Homo sapiens: one gene and its partner. The protein of the gene in region 2 interacts with the protein of the main gene of each other region in a pairwise test. Each region holds a gene or a part of one and is shown on either strand. Other genes may lie near its edges.

Region 1 (4,294 bases), on a different chromosome or scaffold from region 2:
TATGTCAGCTCAGTGATTTCATCAAAGAACTGAGAAACAAAGTGCAATGCAGGGTGACGTGTCTCAGTTTAATACTAGTGATCCACTAAGTCTTTGTTTCTATCCCCTGGGATTCTGAGCTTTGCTGGTTTAGAACCTTGAACCTCCTGGGAGCAAGTGATCCTCCTACCTCAGCCTCCCAAGTAGCTGGGACTAGAGGCATACCATCATGCATGGCTAATTTTTTTTTTAAGAGATGGGGTCTCACTATGTTGCCCAGGCTTACTTGTATATTTTAATTAATGTTCTCCTTTTTGCTGTTCCCTTACCCCATTACTATATAGTTAAGATATTAGATACGCAGATTGTATTGATGGTGGCTAACTTTATAATTTAGTTCATATATGAGAGAATATCAAGATAAAATCATAACTGGAACTAGGAGAGGAATGGATGTCATTTAAATATCTTGGGCTTGGAGCTGGATGTAGTATAGTAGAGGGATGTGATTTCATTTCTGGTTGAGCGGATAATTAAATGTATTTGAATTATGTGTAAATTTCACATTTTTTGATATACAAAGAACAGATAATTGTATCAGTAGGTAATAGGATATTTTATTTCAAAACAGTGAAGAAGCTGCTAAGCATAAAATTTGTCAAATGCTACAAAGGTGATGAATATACAACTGGGAATTCCAAGAAATTTAAATTTAATTACATTCTTTATTATCTTTTCCTCAAAAGAAATAAATTAGTTCCACCATTTGGCTAATATTATTTCATTAAAGACTGAATTTAGATTTTAGGAAATAAAATATGGAATCTGTTATAATGTCCCAATTTATACTACAGTATTAATCTCAATCCTGATCATTACATAATTATAGCATTTACCAATCTGTGATTTTATAAATTAACCAAATTTGTTAAATTAAGAAGAAATTCATAGACACCATTTTTTTCCTGTTACAACATATGGAAAAGCCATCAAAAAACTTAACAGAACCAAATCAAAAAGAAGTATATTTTATGCTAAAGTTACTTTCTGTCCAGGTCGAAACATTGTTCCACTTTGATTTTTTCTCCTCTTTGGATTTTGAAAGCTTTCATATCTGAAAAAAGAAAGAGATAATTTAATATGTATAAATACTACCATTACAAAACAAAAGATAATGGATTGTTGGCAAACACAATTATATTTTAAGAAATGAACGGGAAATAACAAACTAGAAAAAAAAATTCCAGTCACAGAAATTAAAAAGAATTCTTACAAATAAAGTTGCACTCCAATAGAAAACGGAGCAAAGGGGATGAAGAGACAAGTTAGAAAAGATAAAATACAAATGACAATGAATAATATGAAAAATTATAACTTCTACACTTTAATCAAAGAAATGTAAATTATTGATATCATTTTTCTAAAATCAAAAGGGCCAAGTTTAGAAAAATACTGCAACACACAATGTTAGTGATGGTGCAGTATATCTGGCAGGCAATTTGGCAATACATTTCAAAAGCCTTAAAAAATGTGAGCTCCCTGTTATACAATTCCACCTCTATCCTAGTGAAACAATTAGATATGTGCATATATTCAGCTGCAAGAATGTTCATTACCACATTGCCTGGGAGCAATTTAAATGTCTAAAAATTGGATATTGTGGCATAGCTACACTATAAAATGACATTTAAAAACAATAAAGTAGTTAACATTTAAAATGTAAAACAATTTTCAGGATGTATGTGGATAAAGGGGGACTGCTATATAGCAATATGTACAGACTGTTCTTACCATAATAGGAAAACATATATAAGCATATAAACAAATATGCTTTGGGAGGTGGTGGGCTTAACAGAAATTTGTTTCCTTATTTTTCCTTACCTCTGTTTTCTGATTCTTCTTTAATAAATACATAGCACTAACGTATGTACACATACATACATACTTCAAAGTACTGCAAAATTAGATAACAAAAGGTAGCAGCTTCTAAAGACCAGGAATAAACATCTCTTAAATTGAATCACACTGAATCATTGACCTAGAATGGTTCCCAGTCCATGGGTCTCAGATGCATAGGTGGCCATAAACTCAATTGCAAGGATCCTTTAAATCCAATGTATAACAAATGTGGTCCACAAATGAATAAATCTGAATGTATTTAAATGTTCTTGAGGTCAATAAAATATTAATATAAATTATTTTGAAGGCAAAACAGGTATTTTTATAACAAAATTTTATAAACTATACATTAGAATCACTTTCAACTTTTAATTTTCCTTCTTATTTCTTCGAAGTTACTAAATTTTTTTTTTTTTTTTTTGAGACACAGTCTCGCTCTGTGGCCCAGGCTGGATGGAGTGCAGTGGTGCAATCTCGGCTCACTGCAACCTCCACCTCCTGGGTTCAAGCAATTCTCCTGTCTCAGCCTCCCAAGTAGCTGGGACTACAGGCACATGCCACCACACCTGGCTAATTTTTGTATTTTTAGTAGAGATGGGGTTTCCCCGTGTTGGTTAGGCTTGCCTCGAACTCCTGACCTCAGGTGATCCACCTGCCTTGGCCTCCCAAAGAGCTGGGATTACAGGCATGAGCCACAGCACCCAGCCCAAAGTTACTAAAATTAAATGAGTCCATTATGAATAATTCAAATATAATCAAATGAACTGGTTAATGAAAACTCAATTTTGACTTCTGTACTTCTGACATTTTGGGGTTTTTTAATGCATAGCTACGACACATATTTTTTGAATTAGCTTTTAAATATTCAAAATATTTTTATTTTAAACACGAACTTTAAAGGTTTAAGTGTAATACTATGTCACTTGTAATAGTAGCTGTACTTCCAAAACAGAATCTGTTACTTACAGCTCAGCAAAATTCTTCCAGTCATCTTCACTAATGGATGGTCTTGTGTGACCAAGTGCAGTCATTAAATGTGACTGACTAATAGCCAGTCTGGTTTTGATTGGTCCTGGTTGGTTCATGGATTCGTCCTCCTTAAGTAAAAAAAGAAATTGACGAAGAGTTAAATTAAGGATGTAAAAAAAAATGTGGTAGTCCAGTTGTTACTTCTTATTGTCAGTTTTTTCAAGAGACCATACGTTCTCTTCCTTATAAGATAATGAAACATTGAAAGCAAGGAAGCACATAACCATGACTGAGTTAATGTGTTCTGGTCCCTTGTTTATAAATATAGCTCGTTTATAAGTCAAAGAAATATATATCAAAAGGGTGAAACAATTTTTAAGAAGTTTTAACAATTATAATGAGGGGGAAAAAGCCATACTCCACTTTGGCTCCGGTATCTGCCTTTGATAATACTGATATCTGCCCTCAGTTGATCTCTTTGTTCTTGTGTAAGTTCTTGGCAACCCTCTTGTGAAGCTGTCCTTAACACTGGAGGCTGTGAAAACAACTGGTCTTTCCCAGGAACTCCAGGCAAATCCTGAGTCATGGAGCTTGGTGCAGAGAGACATTGTGAGCTCTGCATGGTAAATTGTAGTAATGAAAGATGGAAGGAAGAGGGGGAGAGAAAAAACTATGTGTTTACCAAATATAAAAATTAAACATTTTAAGCAATAAAACATTAACATAGATAAGTATACATGTTAATTAACTGAAATTAAGCAAGCTGAAAAGTTGTTCATCTTTTATAAAGGTTCACTGATACCTGTGTTATAGAACCACCATCAAGTGAAAATTGCCATAACACAGGGTAGGTTTTTTTAACTTTGTTGCTTAAATCCAACACACTAATGCCCAAGGACAGGTTTCTTCATTTTCAGAAAGTAAAGTTATACTAAGTTTCTGGGACATTTCTAAATAGAATAAATTAAAAACAGAATTAAAGACTAAAATTAAACCACCACCTTACTGTTCTTGGGAATAAAAATGAATTGCTTTTATATTTTTAAAGTCTGAGTTAGGCTAGGCATAGTGGCTCACACCTGTAATCCTAGCACTTTGGGAGGTCAAGGCACGCAGATAGCTTGAGCCCAGGAGTTTGAGACCAGCCTGGGCAATATGGTGAAACCTCGTCTCTACAAAACATACAAAAATTAGCTGGGCATGGTGGCATGTGCCTGTAGTCCCAGCTACTCAGGAGGCTGAGGTGGAAGAATCACCTAAGCCCAGGAGGTCAAGGCTGCAGTGAGCCATAATTGTGCCACTGCACTCTAGTCTGGATGATAGAGTGAGACTGTCTCAAAAAAAAAAAAAAAAAAAAGCCTAAATTAATAAAGCAAATGTACAAAAAACCAGGAAACATATAGATAACCAAACACATGTACAGATGTTACATGTACCAATAAAATTA
Region 2 (7,298 bases):
CTCCAAACCAACTAGGGCTTAGCTTAGGGGCCAAATACTATGAATGCATGATCTAGGGACTTTTCAGATACTTGCCTTCCTAGGAGTTTAGGGTGGCTGCTTTTGCTCCTTTCTTAACCACAAATCTTAGGACTGAAAGAGGTGAGGCACATGACCACAACAAATGTGACACAATGGGCAGAGATAAGGGAGAACCTTGGCTGAGAACCACAGAGGATTTGGATTGCACAAATTTTGGAGCAAGGTCTTACTTACCTTGTGGGACGCTCCCTTGTGCTGGGCCACACGTTTTGTATTCTTGCAACACTGTGTGGCAGACAGTTCTGCTACTCGAACCTGCCCGTCACGGGCACACATGGCCAGAGTAGAATCACCACTGTTAGGAAGAAACTTGGCCTGGGGTGTTAAAAATGAAAAAAAGGACACACAAAAGAAATGAGAGAGGTAAACTTGAGAATAAAAAATACGATGATGACCTCAACTTACCCCCTTTTCTTACATGACAGCTGGAAACTTAGCTTTCCTACTCTTGTACAGCTGGCTAAGCCCAATTTCTTCCAGGAGTTAAAGGAAAGGGAGAGAAAAAACTTCCTTTGATGTAAGAGAGCATTTCAGTTGGCTCTGGAAGATTGAACTGGCACATGATAAGAGCTCAGATGAACTAGGACTGTATCTAGCAGAGGAGAAAAGGAATAGAGGAGGAAAAATCTACTTTGATTAAGAAAGTAAATATAAATTTGCTACAAAGAAAAAGGAAAATAGGGGGAATGTCAGGGAAGAAAAGAGAACACCCTTAGGATAAATGGCTGGTACCAGTACAGTAGATGGGGCCAAGGAGTAAAATCTTTCCAGAATAACAACAGTATAAGCTAACATTTATCAAATGTTTATTAAGTACCAGTCACAGTTCTAACTGCTTAGCTTCTATTGTTACTTAATCCTCATAACCCTATGTGTTATTAGTCCCATTTTACAGATAAACTGAAGACAAAGGTAAAATAACTTGGCCAAGATCACTGAGCTAGTAAGCAGAAGGGCTAGGATTTGAACTCAGGCAGTTTGGTTCAAGAGCCTGTGCTTATACTACACTGCCTCCTACCAGCACACATTTAATAAGCTGCATGCACCCTACCTATGAGGCTTCCAACAGTCCACATGCTCAAGGAATCTAGGGTTGCCAAGAGTCTTTCAGTGTATTTAGGTCATTAGGGGAGCCAAAGTAGGGCCATGTCCCGATATGTAATTCCTACAATAACTCACTATCAGCTCCCAATCCATGCTGCAGTTCAGATTTCTCTAACTCATGCCTGATTCTCTCAGTTGCTATTATGCTCCCTTGCCTCACCTGGAACACATTACTTTTGTGGCCACTCTCAAAGTCCAGTACTGGCTGCCGCCGTACCCAATCCCACACCACCACCTTCAGGTCATCGCTGCCACTGGCCAGCCAGGTGCCGCGCTGGTTAAAGTGCAGGGTATTGACACAACCAGTATGGCCCTCAAGCCCATGCTGCAGGCGGAAACGCTGCACAAAGACTCTTGCCCCACAGGCCTCATAGACAAAGCGGGCACTTGAACCCAGCTCCCGCTCCCGAAGGGCAGGGAGGGCTTGCCAGCGAGGTCGGGGTAGAGCTGATGTTTCTGAGGACACCCAGTCCTCTAGGGCCCGCTCATCATCTGATGAGTCCTGGTCACGGTTAGCCCGCTTGCGCTGTACACGGCGCCGAGGCTGCTCTTCTTCCTCCTCTTCTTCCTCCTCTTCCTCTTCCTCTGAGCGGTCATGGACTCGATTTTCATCATTAATGGAGTAATGACCAGTGTCCTCCATGCTGTCAGAGTCCTTATCTTCACCTGAGCTCTCTGTGTCTGTGCCTCGACTTTCTGTGCTGGTGCGGTTGGGGCCACCATCATCCCCAGTCAAGCTCAAACTCAGGTCTGAGGCCTCCACTTCAATGCCTGAGGATGTCTCCCTCCCCTCTTCAGCTCCAGACATCTCCTCTGGACTGCTAGACAGGCTTCCTGCATGTTAGTGAGGAAGGAGTAGAGGAGAGGGAAAAATAAGAAAACAGGATAGTGACCACCTTAGTCTAAGAAATCTTCACATCAAAAGACCAAAAAATGAACTTTGGTCCAAGTGTTTTCATTACAAATAATTACAGAGAGTACCCTCTGAGGGGAAATCTTGTAAAGGACAAGAAATTGAAAAGATTAAGATCAAATCCACACACATAAAATACTTCAACAAAAGCAAAGAATCTCAGGACAATCTAAGATTATATTAAGTTCTCAAGAGGCAAAACATTGGCATATTGTATAAAAGTGTGCCTGATACATCTACCATTGGCTCTGTTGTATTGGATGGGCATTTATTAAGTTATAGCAAATAATTAAACAGAATATAAAAAGAAGAGCCAACTCCAGCAAGAGCTAGCATAGCCATCTTCTTAGCGAAAGACGGAAACCAGCTGATAAAAATCACTCTTGACTTATGGATGTGGTGTTGCACCATTTCCTACTTTAAGAAAGTATCAGGCCAGGCACGGTGGCTCACGCCTGTAATCCCAGCACTTTGGGAGGCCGAGGCACGTGGATCACGAGGTTAGGAGATCGAGACCATCCTGGCTAACATGGTGAAACCCCGTCTCTACTAAAAATACAAAAAATTAGCCGGGCGCCTGTAGTCCCAGCTACTCAGGAGGATGAGGCAGTAGAATGGCATGAACCCAGGAGGCAGAGCTTGCAGTGAGCCAAAGTCGCACCACTGCACTCTAGCCTGGGCGACAAAGCGAGACTCCATCTCAAAAAAAAGAAAGTACCACTACACCTTCTGTCACCTAAATCCTAAGCTTCTTCCCCACCTAAGTTTCTAAAATTCACTAAGAAAGCAAGCTGAAGGGGTAAGTGGGAATTGTGATCATTTGAGTGGGTTCTTGCTCACCTTTTGCTAGTAAATATATTTTGACTTACTTCCATTAGTTTGAATTTTTTAATATAATTCTTAGTCACACATTTTTAGTCTCTCTATTGAGACAGTTTTATTAGGAAGCATATATAAAATTGATAAAAAGCTGGGCTACTATAGTGGTGCCTAAGACGAAAGTTCAGTATATTCTAGGTCTGCTATGCTGATAGTTAAATAACTAGGTCACTTTTATCGATCTTATCTCCTATAACTACATACTGCATTCTCTTAACTCACAACAGTCAAGTCAATTCCAATGAGAACTTGAGGAATGTTCTAAAGCCAATACAACCACAACTTCCAACCTAAGTCAAGGTGTGAAGAAAAAAGGGGAGAATAAAGATTTTAAATGCTGCTCATGGGCCTCCTTTCCTCAGATGGCTATAAATTTTATCCGCCAGAAGTAAAAGCTGTCAGGAAAGGCAGACCATCCAGTATGAGCTATTCAACTCCAATACCACACTGATGTTTAAGGATTCAAAGGTGGAGCACCTTATTGCCTAGTCATGTGGATTAGAGCAGTAATTTGTGAAGAGCTCTGAAGCAATGTACTCTTAAGCAAAACCCAATACTGAAAAAAGATCAACAATACAAGTGCTTTGATTCAAGCAGTAACAGAAGCCCAGAAGACATAAACAGTTCTTGCAGGCTGGGCGCGGTGGCTAACACCTGTAATCCCAGCGCTTTGGGAGGCCAAGGCGGGTGGATCACCTAAGGTCAGGAGTTCAAGACCAGCCCGGCTAACATGGTGAAACCCCCATTTCTACTAGAAATACAAAAAATTAGCCGGGCGTGGTGGCATGTGCCTGTAATCCCAGCTACTTGGGAGGCTGAGGCAGAAGAATCGCTTGAACCTGGGAGGTGGAGGCTGCAGTGAGCCGAGATTGTGCCACCGTACTCCAGCTTGGTAACAAGAGCAAAACTCTGTCTCAAAAAAAAAAAAAAAAGCCTCAACTAAGAGCACAGTATAAAACAACTGGGCTAGGGGCTGGAAGAAAAAGTTATGAAGTACAGAAATTTGAACCCAAGGACCACATTTGCTGAGCCTGTTATATATGCTACGAAAGTTTAGCAGTTACAGTTTTTTGAAATGCAGCTGGGCTTGAGCTTGGGAGTGGTGAGCAGGGACTGAAACACCAACCTAACAGGTCTGTAGAAAAGAAAAAATAAAACACCAAAACATCTAGTGTTTATTGTTAAAATTATGAGTAACAAATATAGACAATTTTGGAGGCCTTACCACATTAACATAAGGGCCAGAGGGTATCACAAGCTCATCAAGAAGTCCCCAACAGTAAATCACCAAGATCTAGAGTAGGGGTTTGCAAATTTTTTCTGTAAAGGGCCAGATAGTAAAAACCTTAGGCTTTGCAGACCATACGGAGCTCCACCACAACTACTCAACTCCAGTATGTAGAACAAAAGCAACTCATAGACACTACATAAACGAACAGGCATGACTGTATTCCAATAAAACTTTACAAAAACAAGTGGCAGGCTGGATTTGGCCTGCAATTTATAGTTTGCCAATCCTTGACCTAGCTAATGGTCAAGCTCCAAATCAATAGTATACTTTAACTCCTCTAGAACCCTGTGCCTTTCAACTAAACCCAGTGAAAAATATGAACCACTTTCCTTTACAAAAGATGAATGAATGGCAGTGATAAGAACATATGGAGCAATAAAAAAGCATGTTGAAAATCTCACTTATCCTTCCTCCAATCACATCAACTAGAATTTAGCCTGTTATCCTGACCTTCAAGGTGCTAAGGAATGCTGGACTCTGTGCTGCCCAACTATATCCATTTAAAGGCGGCTTCTCTAATTTAAAAGTTGGCTCAGAGGTGAAGAGCTGGTTAAATAACCCAGGTGGTAGTTATACTCTATTAGAATTTTTATATTCTGCCTTCAAATCTGCCCTAAAGCCAGTGATTTGACACTTGGCAGCACTGGTCCTGAAAAGAAGGAGGAGGGAAAGGAAGGAAGGAAGGAAATAAATGGAAAGAAGGGAGGGGAAGTAAGGAAAGGAAATAAGGAGGGGAAAGATGTCCCACTCCTAGTTGGGTTGTAACTTCATCCCTTATGTAATCACCTTTTTTTTTTTTTTTTTTAAAAAGACGGGGTCTCGCTATGTTGCCCAGGCTGGTCTCAAGCTCCTGGGCTCAAGCGATCTGCCTGTCTCAGCCTCCCAAAGTGCTGAGATTATAGGCATGAGCCACCATGCCCAGCCATGTAATCTCTCTATCAAACTACTACTTACTGTGGAAAGGGACCTCTCAATATAACTGGGAAGCTCATCTTCCCTAAAATTCCCTTGTTCCTACTAGCCATTAGATTTTATTTTTCTCCTTTACTAACAGCATTTCCTAGGTTCTGCCCATCCTTATAGCTTTATAGAACTCCAAACCACTTGACCTCTTAGAAGTACAGCTCTGTTATTGATATTTTGAAAATGATCAGATAAAATCAGAAGAAGCAAAAGCATAATATAGTCCAAGGTGTTTCCTGTGTAGTTTCCTAAACTCAGAACAACACAGGAAAGTTTCCCTCTCTCCACTAAAATCCAGGCCTCCACTCTATCTTGCAGGGAGGAGGACAACCTCAGTTGATAGTAAAAATAGCTTCACCTTCATTTTGGCCCCTTACCATTAGCTAAGTCTGTTCTGCCATCTGTGCTGCTCCCTTTGCTGGACATCTTGAATGATGTTTGCTGTAGCCAGCCTGGGTTTGGGAGAGGAAGAAACCAAAACAATTAGGAAACCACCTGGGAAAGAAGACAATAGGGACAAGGAGATTTAACAATGTACAGGTTTTATCATTTTTATAAAAATGATTTGTGTATGCATGCTTAACAGGTCTTCTCAGCTTGTGAAATTTTTTCTTCCTTATGTTTTCTTCCCTATGTTTAAAATCCATATAATGATATATTTTTGGGGAGGTCAAGTGCCATCTCTTTACTTCACTCACTGAGTAACTGGCAGTGATTTTTCAGATGCGAAAGTGGGAACTAAAATAAAACCTGGAACAGGAGGCACATATCAAATGACAGGTACTGCAAGCCAAGAGTCTCAACTCAATACATAAAGCTAACTTCAGCATTGCCCCCTAGGCAAGAATCTTCCAATGTAAATAAGTGACATATGTATCCTCAAACTCTGTACAACACTTGTTTTCACAACATAAAGAGGTGGGTCAGATTCTGAGTATCATTTTACACACAAATCAACAGAAATCAACCTCTTGGGGGAAGAGATTGAGCTTTCTGTTCACTCAGATGACTAACTTCAAACCTATTATTATTATTCTTTCTTTTTTTTTTTTTGAGACAGAGTCTCATTCTGTCGCCCAGGCTGGAATGCAGTGGCGCTATCTAGGCTCACTGCAAGCTCTGCCTCCCGGGTTCACACCATTCTCCTGCCTCAGCCTCCCAAGTAGCTGGGACTACAGGCGCCTGCCACCATGCCCACCTTTCTGTATTTTTAGTAGAGATGGGGTTTCACTGTGTTAGCCAGGATGGTCTCGATCTCCCGAGTGATCCGCCCGCCTCGGCCTCCCAAAGTGCTGGGATTACAGGCATGAGCCACCACGCCCAGCCCAACTAACTTCAAACTTATTAAAGGCACAGATACTAAGGATTATAGAGCTGAAACTAGAAATCAGGAGCACCCTATCCCTAGGAAAGAAGCTTAAGTTGTTTTGTTTCCCTTAGGACTAACAGTCAGAGTCTCTAAGCACAAAGACAAAGGTGGGGAAGAAAAAGGCAACATTTCCATTAAACCATCTCATCCCATTTCATATAATGGCAAACACTGTTTCACCTAACAGCACCAGCTTTCACCAGACTCATCTTTCCTTAACAAGGAATCAGGGTATCTAACTCACTTCCTTTTATGCCACTATAAAACATTCATATTTTTTTCAGAGCCTCACTGCCACCTCCAGTAAATTCCAAAGAGCAAAGAATAATATTATTCAGACCAGAATTTTATTAAGCCCTTTCAGTGACTTGGACAAAAGGCACTAGTAAAAGACAAAGTATAATTATGACCCCAGTCCTTGTACCCAGGCACACTGGCCTCTAATCTTTCAACAGCCCTTTCATTCCCATGACAATTATTCCAGAAGCAGCCTCATCCTTATCTTTTCCTCCGCTACCCTCTATAGAAATCTAAGCTGCTTCATTAAAAGTATCCTCTGTCAAAAGACAGTAGCCCAAAGATTGTTCATAATAGGCCAAGGTGGGAATAGAAATACTGCAAGACTGGGGCTGAAGCTGACTGAACTTCAGGAAGGGACACCTGGAAGGGTGATGATGAAAGACAATGGCAACAAAAAA

What was found.
Region 1: the proteins of DCAF8 (region 2) and PEX1 interact in binary tests that used the Homo sapiens proteins (3 or more experiments, as listed by UniProt).

Annotation. Positions count from the first base shown.
Region 1 is NC_000007.14:92,486,449-92,490,742, forward strand, and holds the end of PEX1 (peroxisomal ATPase PEX1), read right to left. Parts: intron 3,464-4,294; coding exon 3,266-3,463; intron 2,976-3,265; coding exon 2,845-2,975; intron 1,094-2,844; coding exon 1,009-1,093; 3' UTR 577-1,008; downstream 1-576. UniProt on the Homo sapiens protein: Component of the PEX1-PEX6 AAA ATPase complex, a protein dislocase complex that mediates the ATP-dependent extraction of the PEX5 receptor from peroxisomal membranes, an essential step for PEX5 recycling.
Region 2 is NC_000001.11:160,238,352-160,245,649, forward strand, and holds part of DCAF8 (DDB1- and CUL4-associated factor 8), read right to left. Parts: intron 5,684-7,298; 5' UTR 5,658-5,683; coding exon 5,609-5,657; intron 2,020-5,608; coding exon 1,346-2,019; exon of another isoform or gene 871-1,345; intron 397-870; coding exon 256-396; intron 1-255. UniProt on the Homo sapiens protein: May function as a substrate receptor for CUL4-DDB1 E3 ubiquitin-protein ligase complex.